2 separate regions of the Homo sapiens genome follow, and region 1 is linked to region 2. A link means that fine-mapping ties the variant in region 2 to the expression of a gene that starts in the linked region. Tissue or cell type: whole blood. Region 2 holds a variant in brackets; the other region holds the start of a gene. All regions are shown on one strand. Distances are between the middles of the regions. Region 1 holds the start of INPP4B (inositol polyphosphate-4-phosphatase type II B). Region 2 overlaps INPP4B (inositol polyphosphate-4-phosphatase type II B).

What was found. PIP is the estimated chance that this variant, and not a neighbour inherited with it, causes the effect.
Region 1: INPP4B starts here. The variant in region 2 is fine-mapped to the expression of INPP4B in whole blood (TOPMed, PIP above 0.99).

What each region holds. Positions count from the first base shown.
Region 1 is chr4:142,842,901-142,851,618 of GRCh38, forward strand. INPP4B (inositol polyphosphate-4-phosphatase type II B) reads right to left here and starts at 3,401. Exons shown (of 26, transcript NM_001101669.3): 1 at 3,309-3,401. The region is part of intron 3 of USP38-DT (USP38 divergent transcript); the gene reads right to left. It overlaps LOC124900788 (a long non-coding RNA gene), which reads left to right and starts at 8,574. Exons shown (of 2, transcript XR_007058286.1): 1 at 8,574-8,718. RefSeq lists an enhancer at 4,158-4,744.
Region 2 is chr4:142,696,166-142,704,525 of GRCh38, forward strand. The region is part of intron 2 of INPP4B (inositol polyphosphate-4-phosphatase type II B); the gene reads right to left. Among named protein-coding and RNA genes, the nearest start is that of INPP4B, 150 kb to the right of the region's middle. The variant G/A (reference allele first, on the strand shown) is at 4,534.

The DNA of each region.
Region 1 (8,718 bases), 150 kb after region 2:
ATATAATAATATATATACTATATATAATATACTGGATATATATAAATATACATATATAAATTATATATAATGTAGTCCATAAAATTTCCTAAACATTTTAAATGTTTCTTTTAATCTACAAGGTAGTGAAAATATATTTAAAAAAATAAACTAACACAGTTTGATTCAAGTGACCATTGTGCCTGAGACTGAAAGAGTAATTAAAATTTTTGCACATATCTTAATGTCTTTTCTAGGTATATACTGATCTTTTCTAGGTATATACTGCTCTAAAGTTTTAGAACACAAAGACTACATGTATCTTGCACAACAAAATTCAATCATAGCATCATCACTTGGATTCATCTAAAAATAAATGTTTAAACTAAAATTATTTAATAATCTCATTTCTGAAGCCTAAATATTATAGTATATATGATTAGAGTATGCTCTAAAGAGCTCTCTAATCAAAGGTTTCTAGCTCAACATTTTTTAAAAGTATTAACAAAGTGGCCTATGGAAAAGATTCCTTAAGGCTTTAGAAAGATATACAGGACATGTTGAAAAACTAAGGTACATAATACAGAAGAGACTCACACAGCTTTCACCTGAACATTTAACTTGAGATTATTTAAAACAGGGCATTTCTATCTATTAAAATCCCCATAGTTGTGAAAGACAAAAATTTATTTTGTACAGATTAGGTATGATATTTGTATATCTAATATTAGTACTACTGGGCATCACTCAGTATGAAATAAGAAAATGTAATAGATATTCAGTAAGCATTTTACTCACTAATTATGATTCCATAATTTCTTAACTTTTTGTTCTCAGATGTCAAATACTTACCTAGAAACTGCCACTCATTTGGTTGCTATGAGTTTTAAGATCAGTTAGCAGGTTTTTTTTCTGTCTTTCAGAGAATTGTCATCTTGGGTTCTCCCTCAAGGTAGTGAAAGTTAACTTTGTTACCCATCTGGGGATTTATAGTACTTATACTAGAAGATGCTCCAAGGTTTCAGAAAGGAATTAATTACTTTCAATTTGCACAATTTAGAACAAATATCTGGCTTTTCCCTAAGCTTAATGATTTTCCATTTCACACAACTAAAATATAATAGCATTATTTTATAATCAAGTTTAACTGATGGTCTATGATAGTAGAGCGATTTAGTATTTTGACAAAAATCTTATGAGACATGAAGTCATTCAATTTGCAGCCCCAAACTGAAGCTCAAACACAACATTTTAAAAGTATTTTCTGCCTATACCTTTGACTGCATGCTACTTTAAATAGAGGGACAAGACTAAATGGTCTATCTGGTTGTTCTTACACTTTATAAAGAGTCAAAAGCAAATTTGAGTTATAAATATGCACATCATAGTGATCATTATTTTATCACAAATAAATATTGATTTGCTTAATCAAAGAGAATACTCTCCTAGAATAAGAGCAGTATTTCAATCTGCAAACATGTTTCTTAATGTCACTGAGCATTTAGCCTATCTTCACACACACATTTCATAACCTTTCAAGGACAATCTTCTACATCACATTTTAAGGAAATACACTGAAAAAGCAATCCATTTTGCAATAGCATTTTACATTACTACAAATTCACGAGGTTCAACCTTCAATGCCCATGTACCTTTCACAAAACTATTGATCATTTCCTATCAATGCTTTACAGGATTATATCACAAAGGAACACATAATGCATGTATGTGCATCAATGCGTAAAGGAGAGGATGCATTTCTGTGCATAGTATGTGAACTGACAATGCCCACTTGCCCAGTCCTTGCTTTACTCAACTTCTTACACATCATCAGCCAGCTGCCCTGTTGATGATTCCTTGCACCTTATGCGCTGCTTTATCATTGAGTCAGATTACTACCATTTCTGGTCCAGAACTCATTAAGAAAAGTCCTTTTTCAAGCAAGGTCTTTGAAATGTAGTTGTACACCTATAAAAGAACTATCTGGAGCTCATCTTGAGAGAGAGAAGATGAATTTATCCTCTGTCTTTAGGCTTTTACTTACAGAGCCACACCTTTATAAACAAGTTCTGTCTGTCATACTGACAGGAAGGAGATATGCAAAATGTAACATCTGGAGTCATAAAATATAATGACCTCAAATAACATTCCAGAAAGAGAAAGGAAAACTAGTTCTGGTTAGGGAGAAGATAAAAGAGGAAAAGGAGTAAATTTACATCCTTAAAACAAGAGTAATAGAAAACCCTACCGGGTTTTTCCAGTAAGTTTTGTGCAGCAGCAGCAACAACCTAATCAATATGTGCTTCCTCACCCTCTTGTCCCCAAAGAGAAACTGCTGGGCCCCTCTCCACCGACTCCCCAGGAGCAGAAACTACTGCCCCCAAGGAAGGGAGAATTCAGAAGCGTGGGGAGGGGGAAAAACAGGTATATGTGGTTCTAGCATCCTCATCTTCATATCAGCTACCAGCCTGAAACTACATTCAGGAACCAGGCTCCCAGACATTCCCCGGCCCTGGGCCCTGCCTGAGCGCCAGAGAGCTTGAGGAGCCTGCAGCATAGTTCTCAGACCCGAAACAATGACCTCCCCCGTCCAAACCCAGGCACTCTTGCGCCAAGGCCCTAACCTCTCAGCGAGACCTCTTTGGGGAAGGACAAGAGATGCTGCCTGATGGCCGAGAGAAGACATGCCAGGCTTCTCTGCCAGAATGAGTTGTTGAGGGTGGGATGAAGGTGGTCAAGGAGATGGGCTCTTTATTTTTAAAACAAAAAACAAGGCAACCGGGACCACCAACATCAGTCACCCTCACTCCCCACCACTGCCTCTATTCCTTAAGGACTTCTTCCCAGGCCGGCGGCGGCGGCGGCGGCGGCGGCGGCAGCTTGCGATCATCAGGATTGGAAGTGAGAGCGAGTGCCCGGGCCAACCTCAGCGTCTCTCAGGGACAGCGCAGGTGGGCGCAGCCTTGGAAGGTCAGCGAGGCCAGAGCTCAGAGTTCCACGGGGGCCCGGAGAGTGTGCGTGTGTGAGTGAGAATGCGAAAACGCGCGCGCGCCGGGCAGAGGGGCGCTCGGCGAGAGGGTAGGCGCGGTGACAGGGGTACCCCAGCAGCCGAGGAGAGACAGCCCACCCCACCCTTTAAGCTAAAGAGCTGGAGGGGTGATGGAGGCTGCAAGACGGAGAAACTTGATGCAAAACAGACAGGCTCCCCCCTCCAAGACGTGCCGCCACGCTCTCAGACACGCTCCCTCGCCTCCCGGATTACCCACCATCAACCACCCCACCCTGCAAAATTCCCCCACCGAGCCCTAGGATCCCAGGCGGGTAATTACCTCTCCCGGAGGCGGAGTGGGGGGCGGCAGCAGCAGCAGACACTTTTAGCCTGACTTTCCTGCGTTCGCTTGCGAGCGTGTGAGCGTGTGCGCGCCCAGGAGGAGCTGTAACCTGCTATTTATAGACCGAAGCCTCAGTACCCGGGGCTGAGAACCCGGAGGAAACTAGCAGGCGGCGGCGACGGCGCAGGGCGCCGGCCGCGGCTTCGCGAGGCTCCAGCAGCTCCCCCAGCCTCTGGCTTCGGCCGCGCTCCCTGCTCGCTCCTCGCCTACCAGCCCCGCGCGCGCCCCAGAGAAGTTGTCACCAGCGCGGCTGGCTCTCCGGCTGCTCACACGCCCCCTGGCACAATTGCTACTTTCTTCCACCCCAACCCCCACCCTCCCCGCTCCTCTTCCTCCTCCTCTGCTCTCTCCAAGCGGTCTCCTCCCAATGTCACCAGCGACCGAGTAGAGGCGGCCGTGGCAGCGACAGTCGCGCAACTGGCGCTGCTCGCTTCCCGCTACTGATAGAGCGGAGATGGTGGCCCGGCTGCCCACCCCGAAATTACCACGCTGGCTCCGTGTGCTCACACCCCGTACCCCGACCCCTTTCTGCGGCCCCTCTGCCCGCTGGGTCGCCCACCCAGACTGGGCTGTGGGATCACCGCTACCGCGACGAGGGGGGACCCGAGGCCGCCACGCTGCTGCGGGGGCAGGAGAAACCACAGAGAAAGAACCCGCGGGAGGAAGAAAGCGCCCCAGACCCCGGCCTATGGCAGCGCAGTCCCTAGACCGAGGGTTTTTGGAAGGGGCTTGGGATCCCTGCTGTCACTGCCTGCGTCTAGGCATCCATTCACGCCTGCTGGACCCCAGTCTGCAGCCGCGCTGGGACCCCTGTCTCTTGCCCCTCCTCCCCCTTGCCCCGGGCAGAGGTCGGGCTGAGGAGACCAGCTTAGAGCAGCCCTCGGCCACCCACCGCCAGTTCCCACGTCGCGGCGGGTGACTGAGGCCGAGATGCTCCCAACTAGCGTATGACATGCCTTTGATATCCCGGGTGCGTGGGGACAAATCCGCCCTGAATGTGTTGGGGTATCAGGAAAACGGGGTATGTAAGCAAGCAGTCTGGACGGAGACTAAAACTCCCCCACTTCCTAGCCCCTAACAAGCCCACAGGGGAAAGCACGCACCCTGGTTATTCCGGGCTGTGTAGGGTGTGGGGCAAATGACTCTCCCCATCTGCGCTTTACAGGTGCCACCTGGCGGCTCTCTCGGAAAGGTTTTGATGGAGCCGTTCAAAGGTAAAGGTGCCCAGAGCCAGCCCATCAAGACACCCCAGCCCTTCTCCCTGAGGGCGCTTTAAAATCACATTTTAAGTAAAGCAGTGTACGAATGCTTGTACACAAGTGTTACATTTGCCATGCAAAAAGACTGGAATCTCAAAGTCAGGACAGTGAAATCAATTTGGGTTAAGTCGGGGCTTAACAGTTTCACAAACCAGGAAGCTGTATGTACCCCCAGCTGTCACCCCTGCTGTCACTGCCCGCATCTAGGCATCCTTTCACTCCTCAAACCTTTGACCACCACATTATAAGCCTTGCCAATGAGGACAGGGACTTTGGGTTTGTTTTGTTTTGTTTTGTTTTGTTTTGTTTGGTGGGGGGAGTTGTTTGTTCGTTTCATTTATTTTTTTCATCACTCTGCTCCCAGAGCTTGGGACAATACCTAATATTCTGTAGTTTCAATAAATGTTTATAGAATCAAATAATAAACACTATAGGCCAGAAACTGCTTGGCGCCCCCGAAGCCCTTCCTTTTGCTTCTCTTCAAGCTTTTTCTCCTATGCTCAGCCTCTACCCCAAGTGAGCTGAATGCAGAGAGATAGGAGAGTGAGGAACAAATAATCCCTGTCAAGATGTGGATCAGCTTTGAGAAGCCTTCACACAGTTAGATTTCTCCTCCATGGGGCAGCACTGAACACACCCATCTCCAAGCAATGGGTAAGCCGTGTTCATAGAGATCTGCTGGAAAGATGATACAACTTTCTCACTGGGCAGTTTCTGATTTTTCTCACAATAGAGAGAGATTGAAATAATATCAGGACATTAGGATGTCAGAGCTTTGCTACTAAATTGGAAATATGGTTAACATATCTGTCCTCTAAGTGGAAGAGTGTGTGTGTGTGTGTGTCTGTGCGTGTGTGTGTTTATGAAGACTACAGCAGCAATGCCAGAAATACCAAACCATACCTCCTAAAAGACTGAGTTGTAAAATAAATGCAGTTACTGATTCTATGGAAATGGACGTTTAAAGTGAGATGCTTAGAGGACCCTATTATAATTAAAGTCCAGACATGGACCATGCTGACAAAGTCCTTTTACAGGGCGGCTGAAGAATATGTGACTTACTTGTGTACATCACGTAGGAAGTTTGAATTCTCAGAAAAGAGAGAATATGAATCAGGATGCCATCAGATGCATGTACCACAAGGCATTTTTAAAAATCCATCAATCATCCTGATATTTACCTTTTTTAGTTATTTGGTGGCTTTTTCCTTGAATAAGCCTGGAGGATTCAGATGCTTCCGTGGTTTAATAAACTCATTCAGCATTCACTTTTACAAACCTTGAACTTTTGCTGACTTGTACCCCCAAAACATAACTCCATTTGCCAATGAAGGACAAAATATTTTTCATTTCCTTTTGAAATATCTTTGTAGGGCCAGAAGTCAAAGGTGATTCCCTGTAGTTACCTTGCTGTCTAAAGCAATAAAATCAAGCCAGGATCTACAGGGTTGGTGTCACACTCGCCTTTGCAGTGAAGCAGCCTACACTCTCTCCATAGATTCATTGTTCCTCTAGATTTTTATCTCAGGTGAGATTAATATGACATCATATCTACTTTTATGATCCTTCACTATTCAAAATCTCTTCTAGAATATAGCACCAAGCATCATATAGGTTTTTTAATGCTTACTCAGTTATGTTAACAATAACTTGTAAAGTAAGTCCTTGTTTTCATCTCAATTTTTAAAAACTTAAAAATTACAGAAACTTTGTTATGTATACATTAGCATCATCTCTTGTGTGTATATTGTGTGTGTATGTCTGTGTGTATTTAAATTAAGGGGGATGTTGTTAGAAATAAGAACTAAAGTAAAAAGGATAAATTATTGTAAAGATACTTGGCTGCCCCATGGAACCCCAAAACAAGAATGCAACTGGGCACTAGGAATGACTGGAAACAGACAGGCCATTAGAACTTTCTCTGTCTCTTTTCCCCCACTACATTAACTGTCCCATTCTGTATCTCTCTCCCTCTTTCTCTCTCTCCCCACATACATTGTCTCACTCTCTGCTTCTCTGGTGTGCACTAAATTGCATGGTGGCTAACGACTCTTAAACTTTATAACTTGTGAACCAGTTCCAAATTCTCCAAGTACTGTGATTCTTCCAGCTACCAAACCCCAGCCAACAACCTTGGCCAGGGATGGTAATCAAGTGACATTTTCATACCTACTGTAGTAATTAGGTAGATTATAGTGGGAGGCTGAAGAAGAAGAAAAAGGATGAAAATTCCCAAAATGAGGGAAGGAATACAGGTCATTCCTGACCACTACTATCTCCTATTCCTGGTTGTTTCATCAACATTGACACAAAAGACAAAAGAAAGTAGGAAAAAGAAATATTAAAAAAGCAATAATGTCTATGGTGTATTAATGCATATGCATGTTTGAATATTGAATAAGATGGAATGCCTCTTACTGTTGGTAGTGCTCGAAGATAGCTGTTCCCAGTATAAGTAGCAGTATGATTTTATGATCTCTCGGCATGGGGCTGGGTGAGTATGAGAAAGAAATCAAGTTTTTCACAGACAGTTTACTTTAGCTTCTTTTTTCATGGCAAATTAAATAAGAGATTTTTAAAATAAAACAAATGAGTGTGCTAGAATTTTACATTGATTGAAAATAAATATTCGTGGCTCTTGCGCTTTGCATAGTGGTTATATTTGTAAAATTGTATGTAAATCATATATTTGAAAATGAGTCACATTTCAAATATAATAGGGTGGTGAATCTTAACATTTTTGCAGTCATAAATCCATTGGAGAATTTGAGGAGAGCTGTGGACTCATTTCCCAGAAAAATATGAGCATGCACACACACAGTTACAATGGGATGTTATATGACATATTTATTTGAGACCTGGAACTTAACACTTTATATTGCTTTTGTCTTCCCCCAGTCATTGTTATTTGAACAAATGAAATAAAGACTCCAGATTCTTAAAACCTTCAAAATGCCCGGTATGTACAAGCCAAAAAATGGGTTGGGGTGGGGGACATATGTGAATGCAGAGAACTAGCTCCCTCTTCACCAGCTCCTGCTCCAATGAGTCCTAAATAAGCTGTAGTAGGAAATGAAGACTGAGCTCTTAGAAGGAGGGGAGAGAGTTATAATGTGGGGAATGCTGTATTCGTCCACTAGGGATGCCATAACCTCTTACCAACAGGTTTGGTGGCTTAAACAATAGAAATGTATTTCTCACAGTTCAGGAGGCTGTAAGTCAAAGGCTGAGGAATAGGCAGGTTTGGTTTCTGAGGCCTGTCTCCTTGGCTTGCAAATGTTGCTGTCTCGCTGTGTCCTCAGGTGGTCTTTCCTGTGTGCATTTGCAGCCCTGGTGTCTGTGTGCGTCTAAATTTCCTCCTCTTATAAGGACACCAGTCAGATTGGATTAGGGCCTGCCCTAATGGCCTCTTTTAATCTAATTGTCTTTTAAAGGCCCTATCTCCAAATGCAGTCATATTCTGAGATACTGGGTGCTAAGGCTTCAACATATGAATTTGAGGGGGACAAGATTCAGCCCATAACAAATGTGCACTACAACAAACTCCAGAAAGGGTCTGGGGGTGAAGTTTGGATATAAATTTCTCCCTTCTGTAAAGAGGACCCAAGAGTAAATACTTGTACTGTTTTCCCCTTGGAGTATCAAGAAGGCAAGGGTGTAAAGTGGGAATATAAATGCTAGCATGCCTTATCTAGATCCTAAAGGGCTAATGATCCCTGGGATTTTGTTGCCTAAGTGATGAGGAAGAGGCTGTGGTTCCTTTGGGCTATAGGAGGCCTGGAAGTTAGTCAGGAGTGACAGCCAGCAGGACAGGTAATCACCAAGAGGTCCCCTGGGAGGGCGACCAGATTAAATGCCAAGGAAAGGGCGTGGCCTGTCTATGGAAACATAAAGGTGTGGCTACAATTGCCATGGCAATGACCTCAGAAGAGTCAGTGGCTATGCACTAGAGTAATGCCATCTTCATTCACACCTCTAGAATGGAAGCCAAGTCAGCTCTTCAGAAAATGACAGACATGTCCCCCAGTGTCATGATGCTGTGTAAGTCTCCCCTGGACCAACAAGCTCCCCTGGAAGTAAAGGCGAAG
Region 2 (8,360 bases):
ATTCGATGGATTAAGGCACACTCTGATTCTAAAACAGATCATTTCCTCTGTGCCCTTTTCCATGTGTCTGATAAGACAGAGAGTGTGCCTGGTCCTACTAGCATTTATACCATCCTCAAGGGGCCAGAAAGCCCCAGGAGAACTTTCCAAGAGATCCTCATGCAACAACCCACCTTGTTCCATAACTGTGCCCAGCAGCTCAAGGGAACAATTATAAACAAGGATACCACCCCCAAAGAGTAATAAAATCTAGCTGAGGGGACAAAATATACACAAACATCAGTGCAAGGCACTAACTGACCCAGGCTGTAATTCTGTGGTACAGATACTCCCTTTCCCCACCCCAGCCCTGACATCTGTCTCCTACACAAACTACACCTTCAGTGCTTGCCCAACTTTGTTGCTTACTTCACTGCTTACACCCACTTAAACTGGGTCATCCTGGCATCTGCAGTGCCCACTCAACCCTGCGTCCCTCTGCCTTGCCATCAGCTACTACTTATGTTGTTCTCCAAACATTTCAAAACCAGGCACTACACAGCCATCGACTTCTGATCCTAATTCACCATGTCCTTTACAGCCAGCCAGTAGAGAGGCTCAGTAAGAGGGCAAATTGGATAACACCAAGGCTGTCCAAGAAAAGCAGGTTTATAGTTCCATTCTTTTATTGTAAAATTACTTATTAAATTACTTCCCTTTGCATGTTTTACTTGTTTTTATAACAGTGCTTTCCTCTAGCAAGGAAGTAGATAAAACCACAGTGTGCAGCCCCGCACACTCCACTGTATGTGTTTATTCTTAGAATGGTAAGTCAGAGAGAGTGGAACACTGGCAAGCTTTCACCTGCTTTTAGTTTAAAAGGATGTCAGTTACAGTTTATTATCCCAATGATGCATTTTTAAAAATTCTTACAATCATATTATATACATGTGATGTTGATGTCAATCATAAGCAGCCTAAGTTACATTGTTATTAAAATTACCTGTTGTACAATGCTTCATATTTTCCAGGAAAAGGAGACATTTAAATTATATGGTTTTGGTGAAAACACATCGGTAACTGAACATGGGATGAACAACCTCTATATCATTCTCCCTTTTAATACTGTTAGGCTTTCCCCAACCCACACCAATGCCATCAACCTTGCTCCCAGAAAAGCTACCTAAATTCTCTGAGTTGCCATTCATAAAAACAGAGTCTGGGATCAACTGTGAAAGTGAATTATATACATGAGTGAATAAATCAAAATAATACTCTAACGAAATAGGTAAGCCAAGTTTATTGTTTCTGGCAGTAGGCTTTAACCATGTGATAATGTTCTGTTGATTTTCTCTTAAAAATGTCATCCAATTACATAAAACTGTCAATCAATCTTAATCAAACAAGATTTGGACAATGGATTCTTGCTGGGCTTTTCTATATGATTAAACGATAGGAACTTATTTGCTTTATTACTTTATATGGCCAAAGCATATACTGGAAACCTACAAGAAAAACAGGAGACAAAGGTGAGCTACAAGCAAGGAACTGAAGAAAATGCAGCCATGGAAATTTCCCAATATCATGAGTTATTCAGATTTCCAAGCTGGATCAAGTAGAAATCCTAGAACATGAGGCATGGGTAAAAGTTCTTAAATAGGGCCAAGACATTACAAATCCCTTTCTAGGCCATGACTTACTTAAATCACATTTTGTTCCTGTATTCATATGTAAATAACAATAATAATAAAATCCTTATCAGATAAACTCAGAGTTTTAAAGACTACATTTGAGAATTTCAAATTCCTAGAATACTGAATATTTAACAAAACAAGGGCTATAATTTAAGGTTAGCTTCTTATAATATGAAACATGCTTGAATTTAAAAAGAGTATAATGCAAGAAGACTGGCTGTGAAAATTTTAAAATTCTAATCTGCTTATAAAACACTCAAGCTGAAATAAATCTTGGCTGTAATTAAGATAAGTAACCACAGCTATAGGGCTACTGTTAGCATGAACATGCCCTTACCAGTAAGAGAAAACAATTAAGTTACAGATCTTACAAGTTATAAACAATTTTTTTCTGAAACAAATCCATCATTTTTATTGATTTGAAATCAATAGAGTTTTCATAAATTATTTCTCATAGAAAAAAAGACATACGAGATTAATTTTTAAATCTTAGCACTGAAAGGGTAGGTCACCATTTCTCCTTCCAGTGTTATTCTTGTCATAACTATTTGAGATTTCAATATCCACAGATATGATCTTGCCTTTTGTCTTAAATGATTGTCTCCACTTTATTAGGACTATTCATTTTCATTACCAGACCCTAGATCTTGTCACTACCAATATCTGGACTTTCTGCAGATCTCAATCACAAGCATCTCATTTCCTAATTTTTCTAACTCCCATTCTGTGTCCAACAATCTTTAAGCTGCATCAGGGTCTACTGAGGAATCTGGGTTTTGGCTAAAAACCTACTGTGATCTTTCAGGCCTAACCCCAGGCAGTTACAAAGACTTTTCCTGGCAGACCTGAACTACCTTCCTCATACCAGACTTGGTGTGCAGCTAGTGCATTGCTGAAAGGAGTTGCAGTCACAGACTCAAGCCCCCAGGGCTGGCCATGCTCTTATGCATATCCGTGTTCTTAGCTCAGCAAGAAGGCCTTCAGGAACCTCTGCTAAGAACTTATCATTTGGAGGAGCTGAAGGGGAACCTTGAAGACACTTTTCTCCACTCTAGCTCAATAATTTTTTACTCCTACCCCTTCCTTTTCACCCTTTTCCCTGGGCCCCTAGTATATAAAACTAAAGGAGACTTTTGTTCAAGACTCCCTCAGCAGTAAAGCAATTCCCCACATGTATTGATTCACTTGACCCTCAGATATCCAGTACTGTTTCACGGGTAAAATGGACAGAGGTGGTGCATGGGTGGGGTGGAAGTGGGAAGTGGTAGAGACAGTGGTCAGAACTTTCTCTGGTTTAGCTTCTTGCTTATACTATCACAGTGAGTGATTAAATGTTAGAGCACTATTTCATTGTGGTTTATTGTCATAATCAGCTATTCTGAAGCATGGTAGCACAGCACAGCTCTCTCCAGCTCAGCTTGGCCCCTGACATCTACAATCCATTGTACAACCACCTTTTCAATATACCTTCCCTCCTCATGTCCTCATTTCCATTCTTATCCAGCTTAAATGTCATGGTTGTTTATTGCATTCAGCCATATCTTTATACCTCAAACTACCATGACTCTCTTGTGCTTCATTATGCTCACTTGGGAAAATCATGAGCTTGGTAATCACAGAGCTTGGTAAATCACAGAGCTCCACCTACTCTGTCCTTTTACCTGTGTGGTTGAATGTGTCTGGAGAAAATCCCATAACCATACTGGCCAGCGTTGCTTTATATCCATGATCTTTATCTTCAATGGCAAATATATTATACATCCCTGATCCATTCACTCATGCATATACCTCAAATTCTATTAAATACTTTTGTCTCCTATTAAACATCTGACACCCCCTCCATCTTTATGTCTCTCTGACACTGTGCTTCCTATTTCAGTAAGAAAATATAAGCAACTGGAAGATATGCAAGCTCCCATCAAAAGGTATGCAATATCTAGACCCTTTTAACAACCTCATCTGCACTTGTATATCTTGCCTCTTCTCCATCATTGTGAGTCAACTCTATATGCATTTGTCTAAAACTAACTCCAATTTATACTAAATCTCAACTCCTCTTGCCTACTCAAGGGCATCATTTTAGCATTTTTTTTCTACAGTTTTCCCCTCTCCACCAGTTCTTTTTCATCAGCATACAAACAATCTATTACTTCTCCCATCTTAAAAGAACAAAACAAAAAAATTTTATTCAGCAACCACCCTCTTTCTCTCTCTCCCTGTATAGTAAAGCATCTTACTAGATTTGCCTATACTCATGGTTTTCAAATTTTCTTCTCCAATCCTTTCTTGAAACCATTCCAATCAAGCTTTGGGACTCATCACTTTATCAAAAGTCTGATGATGCCAAGTAGTATCTTCTAAAACCGCAACAGGGAGAAAAAAAACCTAGTGTCACAATAAATGAGGAATTTGAACAATACATGGATATGGGTAATAATAAACTTTTTATTATTTACAATGAAGGCACCAAATTTAACTTAAATAATGAGAGCACTAGTTGGACACATTTTATGGCTTCTCTTTTCCATAAATTCACAGTACTGAGTTGAATATGGTTTTTATAATTCTTTTTTGTGCTGTATCTTGTATTCCTTCAACTCAATCTATAGGAATTGAAGATGAAACCAGTCAATCAGATTCCTATAGAATTGTACTTATTTCCATCGTAGGATAGAGAATTACTTCTTTTCTTCAAAGTATCTGTTCTAAATTCTATTAACCCCTTCATTCCATCTTTTGGGAAAGAAAAGAGCAATCTTATTTAAGAAAACAGCTAGTCATTGTACACTTGCCCAATTTTTAACTCATTTTTGCCCTGTCTTATTTGCATGAAATTTTTTTTTTATTTTTTGCAGCAGGT[G/A]CATTTTCCTATCTCAGATTATAATCTTTTCTTAGAAGTAGGTCACATGACCTTTCTGTGAAATTATGTGTGGTTTTGTGTTTGTGCATCAGTGAAATGAATTTATATTTTTATACCAGCTTTCAGTATAAAAACTATCTGGGCCAAGGATTATTAGATAATATTATACCTAAAATATTATAAAATATTGATACCCAGATGATTTAAACATTTATTATCTCAGAACACATTATGGTTAAGATCATGTATCAGTCAGGGCTATAGATCAAAAACAAAAGAAACAGGCTCTGGCTACCTTAATCCATAAGAAAATTTATTGGAAAGATAACAGCATTAATGAAAGGCTAGAAGGCCAGTCTTGGGGAACTGGTGGGAGGAATGGAGCCCCAAGAAAGTAGGAATCACAGAAAAGTTTATATGGCAAGAGCAAACTGGTCTGCTTGCCACTCCTGGAGCAGCCTCTACTTGAAAGTTTCAGAAAAGTGCAGGTGGTAAACAAGGTATGTCATAATTACCACTGACTGTTCCAAAGAGGAGAGGATATCCCACCCATTTGGTCTCCATACTGGTTAGTAGGTACTCCCTCCTGCCAGCCTCTCCACAGTAGGAGATGCCCCAAAACAGAGGGTGGAAATGATGTATTATAGCCAGGAGAATGAGGAAGGTCAACTCTAAGGCTCCTTAAAGGAATGCCACATGGATCCAATCAGGTCAAGGGCAGCCACACTCTAACTGGTGCAATCAGGCTGGCATGATCATCAGATACATGCTGAAAATGAAAAATAATAACAAGCAGCACCGAGCAGCCAAAAAAAAAAAAAAGGTTTCATGGAAAGAAAAAGGGATTTGTCTTGGTAACAGTTTGGGCTTGTTTCTATTTCACCAAATACATATTAATATATATGAAATTGTAGAATTTTTTGTTAAACACTAGTTTGAAAGACCATTTCTTCTACTAGATACCTTCCTGAACCATTGCTTATAATCAAGCTCAGGAGTAAGGAGTTAGTACCTCTACCTTGATGTGCAGAGGACACAGTCGACTATGGAGAGCCTGAAAATCTGGTACTGTAGGTGATAAACCCTTCTAGACATCTATCAAATAGACACTTGGGTAGGTTGACTACACAGGTGAACTACAGAAGTTTCTCAAAATTGAATGAACACAATAAATATTTGTATTTACTCAAATATTCTAGATATTTTGATGTCTACTATACTATATATACTAGTACTAAAAATGTACTCACATTTATTACATATTATGAGAGTTCAACACAAAATGAACTAGGTGAAATCAGACTACTGGAAAGAGTTAGGCTCCCACTCACACTGAAGCTTAGCCAAGTCAAGCCTAAGTTAGGAGCCTGAGCAATCTGTTAGCAGTCTTACCAATACAAGGTTTTCCTGGCTTGTAACCCCACACACAGACCCTGTCATCTTTTCTGTGCTTTCATGGCTTTGTCCTCTTTAAGCTTTAGTAGTTTCTTTAAAAAAAAAAAAATCATTCTTTCAAGTTCAAATTGTTTGTTACAATTGGACACAAAAGACTCCATATAGGCACTGGGTAAAGTTGATTTCTTGTGTGTGGTTCACAGAATTCTTGTTGATGAGACCCTCTTAAAAATCATCTACTCTTCTTTATTCCAGTCTTTAGCATATTCCAGAAAGCCTAATTACTTATTGCAAAAACATAAAAATAGAAATCTCTTCACTAGATTATGATTTAAAGCATGAACTTCGAGGCCAGGCGCGGTGGCTCACGCCTGTACTCCCAGCAATTTGGGAGGCCAAGGCGGGCAGATAACCTGAGGTTGGGAGTTCGAGACCAGCTTGACCAACAATGGAGAAACCCCATCTCTACTAAAATTGAAATACAAAATTAGCTGGGCGTGGTGGTGCATGCCTGTAATCCCAGCTACTCGGGAGGCTGAGGCAGGAGAATCACTTGAACCTGGGAGGCGGAGGTTGCGGTGAGCCGAGATCACGCCATTGCACTCCAGCCTGAGCAACAAAATTAAAACTCCGTCTCAAAAAAAAAAAAAAAAAAAAAAAAGAACTTTGAATTTACTTTGGGTTCACAAACTATAACATTTTTAAATAAAGATTGATTTCTGCAAAAAAAAATTTCCCTAATTTGGTTGCATAGCATTAGTGATTTTGCTGCTGACTACATCTGAAGTTAGATAACATTGAAGATGTTTTTATCAACAAGTGCTAATATCTATCATGTTGAAGAAAAACTAGTTTATCTAGAGCACTTGCTCTGGAATTAATAAGATGTGAGTTTAAGCTTGGCTCAGAAACTTAGTAGCCATGTTATTTTGTGCAAGTTACTTAACTTCTATCAGCTCGATTTCCTCACCTGCCAAAGGAAGACAATATGTAATGATTAAAAGGAAGAGATTGTGAAAAAACTTGGTACAGAACCTGTTACTCTCTCTCCTGCCCTCTTTGTGAGTCTTTCAAGGCCATTTTTATCCATTAGTTAATGTAAATGAAACTCTCACAATGTCCTCAACTTGTTGTATTGGCCCTTCCAAACACAGCCACTTTCTCACAAATAACAAGTATGTATTTGAAATCTCAGAATTTTAAATTAATAAATAGTTTTCCATTTTTAAAAAGATAAATACCTTACAATAATGATAATACATTCTGCAGCAAGTTAGATTCAATGGTTAGGTCACAATACTATTATGGCAGAAGTACTATTAAAGGAACATTATGAGGGGCAGAGATGACAATGCCAGCCTTAAACAGATTGTTAAGAAGGCTAGAGAGAACAAGAGCTTCAGGAGAATAAAAGAAAAATGTGCTCCCAAATTTAGTGATGAGTCCAGGGAGTCCCATTAAACAAATTAGCAGGTTTGGAACATAGGGTTTGATGTTTATGGGTATATAAATAAAAAGCTTGTTTTCTCTGGGGCAGCTTAATTTACTACAGCATGTCTCATCGTTTCTGAAAGAATGAATGTTGCAATTATTAGTACCCCAAAGAATTAGTTCATCCTGGGATAAAAATGGGCTCCTCTCTGAGGGCAGAATGCATTGGTACCAAACTCTGGAGCATAAAGAAGACCAGATGCATTCCAGTAGGTAAAGGGGGCTAACTCAGGAAACAAGTGAACTAGCAGCACCAGACTAGTAACTCAGAAGAGTGGCTGATTTCTGGAGCTCCACCATTTGGTGCACCCCAGTATGAGAACATTACCTTCAAAGTGTGGAAGGAGATGGTGTATCCAAAATCTGGCACTTAACTAGCCAGGAGCAAGGACTGACCTTAGAAGCAAAATGGGGTGGTACCTCCCCAAAACCAATGAGAGTGTGTCGGTAGGAATATCTATTAGAAGAAGCTGTGTTTCACAGAGCAGAGGACTCAAGGCCTCACCAGCAACACAGGATGCAACGGGATGGCAAGATAAGGAGGCCGGAATGAACAAACCACAGGAACTTGTTCCAGAACATGTATGAAGAAAACTTTTAAAAACAAAACAAAACAAGCTGGGGCATGATGGTGAGGTGGTAGAGGGGAGACACAGAGTGAGACTGATAAATAACGTATTGGAAACATTTTGAGATAGCTAATTTTCAGCAACAAATCAGTAAAGAACTTCTGCCACAAGAATTTACTATAAAAATTAATTGCATTGAGTTATATAATGGTGAGTACAATGACATATGAATTACATATAATTTGGTAAAACTACCCCTTGAGACATCAACTTTATTTAAATCCTGTCTAAACAAGACATGTGTGGCCTCTATGACTTCACAGAATGAATTCCTTCATTATGCAGGATTCCCTTAACTTCTTGCCACAAAAC